Linked DNA regions of Homo sapiens: all the other regions are linked to region 2. Evidence: fine-mapped expression QTL. A gene starts in region 2. Each other region holds a variant in brackets. All regions are shown on one strand. Distances are between the middles of the regions.

Region 1 (2,762 bases), 60 kb after region 2:
TCCAGGAGGGTGACATGGCTCATCCAGGCCACACACATGCACTCACTGACCAGAAGTGAGGTCTTCCATCCAAGCCTTGGCTGTCACTATTTTCACCCTTATTGTCAGAGCATATTTTTTTAACTGAACCCACTTACTGTGTGGTTGTCTGCTAGGCATTCATTGAGTAAACAGATATTGATGCTATCTCTGTTTAACAAATGGAAAAGTCAGAAAGAAGGAAATAATCCATAAATCCAGGCCTCAAACTGTATTTACCTTACTTCTCTGGATACTGCATGCAAACCCATACAATTTTTTTTTAATCTCTTGTTAGTGTAGATCCTTTCATTGAGCTCAAACCTAAATCAACATGGCAGAACATTTTCCCCGGCTTCTCTGTTATTTACTGGACTCCCATTTTTTGGAGTTGAAGGGGACCTCAGGGAGGATTTAGCCCAATCCTATCATCTTACAGATGAAGAAACTGACTCTCCTCTTTGCCCAAGACACACAGATGGCTTTGGGCAAGTCGGGACTTGAGGGCCAGGCTTTGGCTCCCAAGGGCTCTCACTTGTTCCTGCAGGCCTCAGAACTTCCAGCCTCTAACATGGAGCTTTGGACTCTGCCTATTCGTTTCAGGTTTCTGTGATGGAAGTTTAAAGGCTGCTGGGTGTGGTGGCTCATGCCTGTAATCCCAGCGTTTTGGGAGGCTGAAGCGAGCAGATCACCTGAGGTCAGGATTTCCAGACCAGCCTGGCCAACATAGTGAAACCCCGTCTCTACTAAAAATACAAAAGTTAGCTGGGCGTGGTGGCAGGCACCTGTAGTCCCAGCTACTTGGGAGGCTGAGGGAGGAGAATCACTTGAACCCAGGAGGGAGAGGTTGCAGCGAGCCAAGATCATACCACTGCACTCCATCCTGGGTGACAGAGAGAGACTCCATCTCAAGAAAAAAAAAAAGAAAGAAAATGTCAGAGACAAAGGCTAGCACATGAAACCAGTGAGTAGAGAACAGGAAGACACAGGACACGCCAGCCAGCCAGAGGCACTGCCTGGCTTATTAGCAATAAGCTCAACTGCTAGAGCTGTGTGTCCTGAACAACTCAGGCTGGGGCTTTGTGTGTTCAGGGGCACCCCAGAGATACTCTCCCACCCCTTTCCCCAAATGCTCCTCAGGAAAATCTGCAATCTAGCCTGGTTGGCACAAGTGAAAGAAATCATAACGGAAAGAGATTCTTTATATTGATGTCTTTCTATGTCTATCCTAAGAAAACCCACAGATATTGCACATTCATTGGTGAAAAGATTAGAAGCAATGAAACAAAATGATAATAAAAAACACTTCAATAGCTACTGTTACATCTTTTTTTGTCTCTACCATTCCAGACTTTTTCTTATCCACATATGTGTGTATTTTTACAAAAATAGGTTCGTATGGTGCAATCTGATTTGCAATCTACTTTTTTCATTTATTATATTGTGAACAGCTTTCAGTATCAGTATGTTAACGAATATACATACTCCTACACTGTGTAATGGCAGTGTGTTAGCCTAGATTTTTCCAAGGAACCTGTAACCATGTTTGTTAATTGTATCCATGGGCTTCTAAGGGGTGTGTGTGTGTGTGT[A/G]TGTGTGCATGCACACATGCATATATATATATACACACACACAAATAGATATATACATACACATATATAAATAGCCTTGCTTAGACTCATAGTAATAACCTCAGATATATCCAGCACTATGTACTTTACATATATTAATTTATTTACTTATTGTAAGCACCCAAGATAAAAGTAGAATTTTCATCCACCCTTTACAGATGAGGAAACTTACTCAAGGTAAGACACTGGCATGTGGTAGAGTCAGGATTCAGTCCCGGCAACCTGGCCCCCAGCCTGGCCTCCTGACTACCACCCTTCCAATAATGGGCCCACCTATTGGGTTGCACATTCTAACTCCTTGGTTACATAAACTGGGAGGGCTTATAGGGAACATCCCAATCCTGGAAAGAAAAATCTTAGTATGACAGATGTAAAGTCCAGAGAGTTTTGTTTTTTTTTTCTGAGTCTTACTCTGTTGCCCAGGCTGGAATGCAGTGGTGTGATCTTGGCTCACTGCAACCTCCGCCTCCCGGGTTCAAGCAATCCTCCCACCTTAGCCTCCTGAGTAGCTGGGATTACAGGTGTCTGCCACCATGCCCAGCTAATTTTTGTATTTTTGGTAGAGACAGGGTTTTACCATGTTGGCCAGGCTGGTCTCCAACTCGTAACCTCAGGTGTTCTGCCTGCTTCGGCCTCCCAAAGTGCTGGGATTACAGGCATGAGCCACCGCGCCTGGCCACAGAGATTTCTTTAACTTCCTTTCAAGTCACCTGCACGTTCCTTCCAGAGTGTGGCGACCATCGGCCGGCTCTCCTCTCTCTGTCTTTGCTGCTCCTTCGCATCCCCACCCCGGCCTCCATCTTTTTCTGCCGTCCTTCTCTGCCTTTCCTGCAAGGTTGGCCTCCATGGTGAAGGTGCTGTATCAGATTCCCTTTGTCCCCGGAGGAGGCTCAAGCCTTGCGGATGACCCAGAGTAGAACAGCTAGGAAACCAACACGCCTCCCTCTTGATACTCTTGACACCAGTCAGAAGAAACTGCTGTGTGTTTTAGGCTCGCCTAGTCACTTTCCTCCATTTTAACAGACTTCCCCCCAGGAAGAAAGGGGAGGGGGCCGAGGGGAGGAAGGAAAGGAGTGGGGAAGGGGGGAAGAAAACCCCCATCCTGCCACAACA
Region 2 (2,762 bases):
TGTGAGCCACCGCCACTGCACCTGGCCTCCCACAGAGGATTTTCTAGGAGATAATGTGCTCTTCAGAAGGCTCGAGGATCTCAGCTGGCAGATTGAGTTCTTACTGTGCATTAACAAATTGACACATGGGTTCATGTGGAAGTCTTGTGAACTTGGTAATTGGGTGTCTATTGATAAGAATGCTCACCTTGTACCATTGATTCCCTCTACAACTATGCTGCAAGCACAGTCATCTGCTTTCACTTCTTTGAACATGCCAACCTCTTTCCCACCTCAGGGCCTTTGCACATACTATTTGCCTCTACGTGGAATGTTCTTTCCTCCTTCTCATCCATTAGAGTGGCAGCAGTACTTTAGAATAATCAGAGGGGTTTAAAATAATATTGATGTCCGGTCCCAACCCAGCTCAATTAAACTCAAATCTTTGAGTGTGGGGCCGATGCACTGATAAAATAAAATAAAAGGCATGGAGTTGACTTTATCCTTACGGTCGGCAGGTATTTTGACCAAGCTATCACCGTGAGCAGTAGCATCAACAGTTAGTTATTCAGGGATTTGGGGCACAGGCGGTTGTGACCACATCACAAAAGTTCAATTTGTTGGGTTAGGCGTTTAGCCATAACCTAAGTAGTTGCAGATGGTCTCTACACCTGGATTGCCCATTAGGACAAAACAAGTAAACTTGTGTTTTTAGGCAAATAATGAAACTCTGAGGAGTCTGAAAAAACAACTCATCGCCAGGTAACTCCCAGCCCAGGTGCTCGTCCATACAGGGGTGAACGCACGGCAGGGGGCTGCTCGAACTCTCACTAAGCCTGCCTCTGTTCTTTGCAAAATATTTGATAGTTTTTAATGCAGCAAAGCGAAGCAGACAATCCACCTCTTGTTTTCCCCAAGCTGATGGGGGGAAAGTTCTAAGGTGTTGTTTCCTAAGCTCAAATTAACCAAGATTGGTCAGTGGCATGGACTTTTTTTTTTTTTTTTTTTGGTAATTTTACTTCCATGAGGAATCATTTGGACTCTTCAGTCTTCCTTTCTTCAGTTTTACGTAGGGCTTTGCTGGAGGAAAATGGGGCTAAGGGGGAGAGAAACATAGTCTCGGAGTAGGGTGGGGGATAAATTAAACGCAAACCCAGCGGTGCGGCAAAGGCCTTATTCTGCCTCTGATCTGGGGAAGTTTCATATTCTAATGGAGAGAAACGCACGTGCACACACACCCCCCTAAACCCACACAAATGAAACCCCCTCTGCGGAGAAGCCGGCTACAGGAAATTGACTTAGGCACAGGAACTTGCTAATCTCTTTTGTCACATTCGGATTGCTCCTGCTGCCCCACACACACTAACCCAACCATCTTGGGGTGGACTCCCTGCCAGCCCAACTGTTGTATTTTCAGTTCTTCCAGTGTGAATCAGTTAATATTCTCGGGAACGAGGGAGAGGTTGATCCTATGAGGAAATCAACCACAGTGAAAAGGCTTGGGCCGCTTTTGTTTTCACCTGCTTTTGTTGAACAAATTTGATTTCCGGAGTCAGTCATTTTACTGTCAAGACATTTCTTCGGCATTCTGCAACAGGTAAGGATTTTGCTTCCTTAAAAGTATTTCTTTGGTGTCAAAAGAAATTTTTCTAATTTTATTTAGCTTTTACTCTAGGCCAAACATCGTAATGACTCTGAGCTACCTGCTGTAAGGTGTAGAATCAATTTACAGGGGGACGGGGGTCGGGGGGGTGAGTGTTGCTTTGATATTCACTGCCCCTCACCACAGTCCTAACAAGATTTTTGAAACATGAAAAGTTACAATAGTTGGCTTTTTGGTTTTCCAGATATTCTAGAGAATGCATATGCTTGTGACTGTGGCTGAGCTCAACTGTATGGGTAGTTTAAATACTACCCAAGGTTTGATGAAGTAAATCTAAAGATGCTCTAAGTTGTGCAAATATGAATTTTAAAGTTGTCTAGTTCAGAAAAGAAACAGAACCGAAGTCTAAATGATGTAGATTTCAATCTGGAATTTCTAGCTTGTGTTTTTCACCTATTGCCAATGTTAATGACCATTTCCCAAAAGTGCTCTATGATGTATAACATGTATTTTTTAATTAAATTTAATCTTTCTTCTGAGGTGGTTTGATTTGGAGATATGCTACGAGGTACCAGTCAGTAGCCTGAGTTGTAACTAAACAAAGTTTGGGAAATCACCGGTTTTAGGTGCTTTACTAAATGAAAGTTGCCATTGACGTATTCAAGCAGGCAACAAGTAGTTGGTGTCCCCTTATTGGTTCTAAGCTGGTGCCGTGGAGGATATAAGAGAAATATTTTAAAAATCTCTACTTTGAAGGACCCTATAATCTGGTAGTTGTGATAAGAAGTAAAATTTAGGAAGCAATGCAAGATGAGAATTCAGTGATGAGTGGGGCAGCACAGGCTTGAAGAGTTCTGTGAATTCCATGGAGGGGGCCTGGGGGCAAACTGGAGTTGTCAGGAAGATCTGGGCTTTGGAAGAATGCGAAGTGTCGGTAGAAGGAGAAGGGGCAGGTGATTTCAGACTGGGAGGACCTTGTGGGCAAAGGCACAAAGGCGAGACTGACCTGGAGATGATAAGGCCAGTTGAAGAGACACTGGAGAAGAGAAGACAGTTTGTTTTACACATTGCAGGAAATCAGATTAGACAGTTAGGGTGTGGACACAAAAGCGAGGACCTTGCAGGCACTGGGGAGAAGTGACCCCATTCAATAGTCCTTGGTCTCCTTCTGCCCTGCGGC
Region 3 (2,762 bases), 68 kb after region 2:
AATAAAGTTGTATGCTTTTCTCCTGTTAATCGATCTTACATCAATTTAGCCTTTGTGCCCAGCTGAGACCCTAAGAGCATGGAAGTGGATGGAGTTTTGCTGTCCTTACATCTCCTCAAGTAGAGTCCTGGAGTTCCAGGGTATTACCGTAACCACCCAATGGGTTCACCTTGCTGGGTGCCTAGACAGAGTTGATTTCTCAGGACAGGGGAATTGCAATAGAGAAAGAGTAATTCAGGCCGGGTGTGGTGGCTCATGCCTATAATCCCAGCACTTTGGGAGGCCGAGGAAGGTGGATCACGAGGTCAGGAATTCAAGACCAGCCTGGCCAAGGTGGTGAAACCCCGTCTCTACTGAAAATACAAAAAAGGTAGCTGGGTGTGGTGGCGGGCACCTGTAATCCCAGCTACTTGGGAGGCTGAGGCAGATAATTGCTTGAACCCAAGAGGCAGAGGTTGCAGTGATCCGAGACTGAATCGCTGCACTCCAGCCTGGGTGACAGAGTGAGACTCCGTCTCAAAAATAAAAAAAAAAAAAGAGAGAGAGAGTAATTCATGTAGAGCCGGCTGTGCGGGAGACTGGAGTCTTATTGTTACTCAAATCAATCTCCCTGAGCATTTGGGGATCAGAGTTCTTAAGGATAATTTGGTGGTATGGGCTCGGAGAGTGGAGAGTGCTCACTGGTCGGGTTGAAGATGAAATCATAGGGGGTCGAATTGAGGTGTTCTTGCTGACTTCTGCTCCTGGGTGGGATTGCAGAACTGATTGAGCCGGATTATCAGTCTAGGTGGTGTCATCTGCTGCATTGGAATGCAGAGTCTGCAAAATATCTCAAGCACTGATGTTAGGTTTCGCAACAATGATGTCATTCCCAGGAGCAATTTGGAGAGGTTCAGACTCTTGCAGCCAAAGGCTGCATGGCTGCTAAACTGTAATTTCTAATCTTGTAGATAATTTGTTAATCCTACAAAGGCAAACTGGTCCCCAGGCAAAAAGGGGTTTTTCGGGAAAAGGCTATTATCAATTTTGTTTCAGAGTGTAAACTATAAACTAAATTCCTTCCCAAGGCTAGTTCAGCCTATACCCACAAATGAATAAAGACAGTTGAGAGGTTTGAAGGAAGATGGGGTCAGTTAGGTCTGACCTCTTTCACTGTCATAATTGCCTTAGTTAAGATTTTTGCAAAGCCGGTTGCATTATCTGCTCCGGGTCAAGCTCTGGGCTGTTGCTTCTCCCTCAGGCCTGAGATGGGAGGAGCAGATGCCCCATGGGCCTGGGAAAGGGGTCAAGCAGGTGCCTAGTGCCTGAGGGCGAGCAGGGGCTGCCTGAAGCGAGAAAGTCAGAGGGCTTGCCTTTGCGGCAACACTGCCAGTTCCCACAGGGTCGAAGCTCCTCCTGAGTAGTGGGCAGGGAAGAAGCCAGCCTGGGCCTGGGCTCCTTGGGGAGACAGGACTAACGCTGGAGCCTGGGCCACTGCAGGCCTGTGATCTGGAACCCAGC[A/C]AAGCCTCATCACCCTGCAGCTGTGGGAGCAGGCAGAGCCCTCCTGTGGTTTTAACTCTGTGGCTGTCACTCAGGGACCATTTATCGGCTGTTCTTTTTCACAACATTTCTGTTAGCTTGAGGCTTGGGCCGAGAGAAAAGAGGCTGCTGAAAACCGTCTGCGTCTGTTTTCTTCATGCTATTGGTAGGAGAAACACACTTGTCACATACTGAGTCATTTTTCTGCTTCAACCTCAATCTACTTTCTCTGAAAAAGTGAATCCATGTGGAAGAACTTATGGGAGAGGGATGAGGGAGAGAGGGAGGAGCAGAGGGAAGGGAGAGGGAGGAGGGAGATGGCAGCCTGTCCAGTGTTTCTAGCCTGCATCATATTGTGGAAACTTGACAAGTCTAATTCTCTGCCATGGCGAGGGTGAAGGGAAGAGGCGGAGGCAGAAGAGAAAGAGCAGAGCCTTAGGCAGGTGGTAGGTACAGCGCTGCCAGCCTGCAGGATCCTTTGTGAGAGTCAGAAAATGGTGCCTGCTCTGCCTGCACACCGCCCTATGCCAGCCCACAGAGTTTTGGCAAGCCCAGCACAGCTAGATTTCAGTCTCCACTGTCCCCTCTGCCTTGTTCAGTGAACGGCCTGTGCAACTGTGATCAGCAGCCCTGACTGGAGGAAGACTCATTCCAAATGCTGTGGCAGATGAAGGCTCACAAGGAACTGAAATAAGAAGTGGTAAAACTGCCCTCGGTTATGGCTACAGTATTCGATGAGTGTAAAGGTACAGTCCATTTCCAGAAAGCCTGACTATGAGGCCATCACTCTTACTCATTGAGTACAGCTCTTTACTTTCTCCATCGAGGCATCCACCAAACTCTACAAAATCTAGTTAATTGCTCCCTTCCCTCTTCCACCAAACTTGGACTCTCTCCTTGTTTCTATAAACCAAAAGGTATCTGAGACAGGTCTCAATCAATTTAGAAAGTTTATTTTTTCAAAGTTAAGAATCTGCTTGTGACACAGCCTTGGAAGGTCCTGACAACATGTACCCAAGGTAGTCAGACACATCTTGCTTTTATGCATTTTAGGGAGACACGAGACATCAATACATGTAAGATGTACATTGGTTTAGTCTGGGAAGGTGGGACAACGTGAGGCGGAGACTTCCACGTCATAAGTAGTCAAAAGACAAAAGGCTGCAGTGGACTCTTCGGAGTCCTTGATCAACCTTCCACTGAATACAAAATTTAGTCTGGCTCAGTGAATCTGCAATTTTACA

The links. PIP is the estimated chance that this variant, and not a neighbour inherited with it, causes the effect.
Region 1: its variant is fine-mapped to the expression of RHOH in whole blood (INTERVAL, PIP above 0.99).
Region 3: its variant is fine-mapped to the expression of RHOH in whole blood (TOPMed, PIP above 0.99).

Annotation. Positions count from the first base shown.
Region 1 is chr4:40,255,996-40,258,757 of GRCh38, forward strand. No RefSeq gene overlaps it. Among named protein-coding and RNA genes, the nearest start is that of LINC02265, 50 kb to the right of the region's middle. RefSeq lists an enhancer at 2,037-2,762. The variant A/G (reference allele first, on the strand shown) is at 1,611.
Region 2 is chr4:40,195,725-40,198,486 of GRCh38, forward strand. RHOH (ras homolog family member H) reads left to right here and starts at 1,307. Exons shown (of 3, transcript NM_004310.5): 1 at 1,307-1,576. RefSeq lists an enhancer at 2,280-2,379.
Region 3 is chr4:40,263,866-40,266,627 of GRCh38, forward strand. No RefSeq gene overlaps it. Among named protein-coding and RNA genes, the nearest start is that of LINC02265, 42 kb to the right of the region's middle. The variant A/C (reference allele first, on the strand shown) is at 1,501.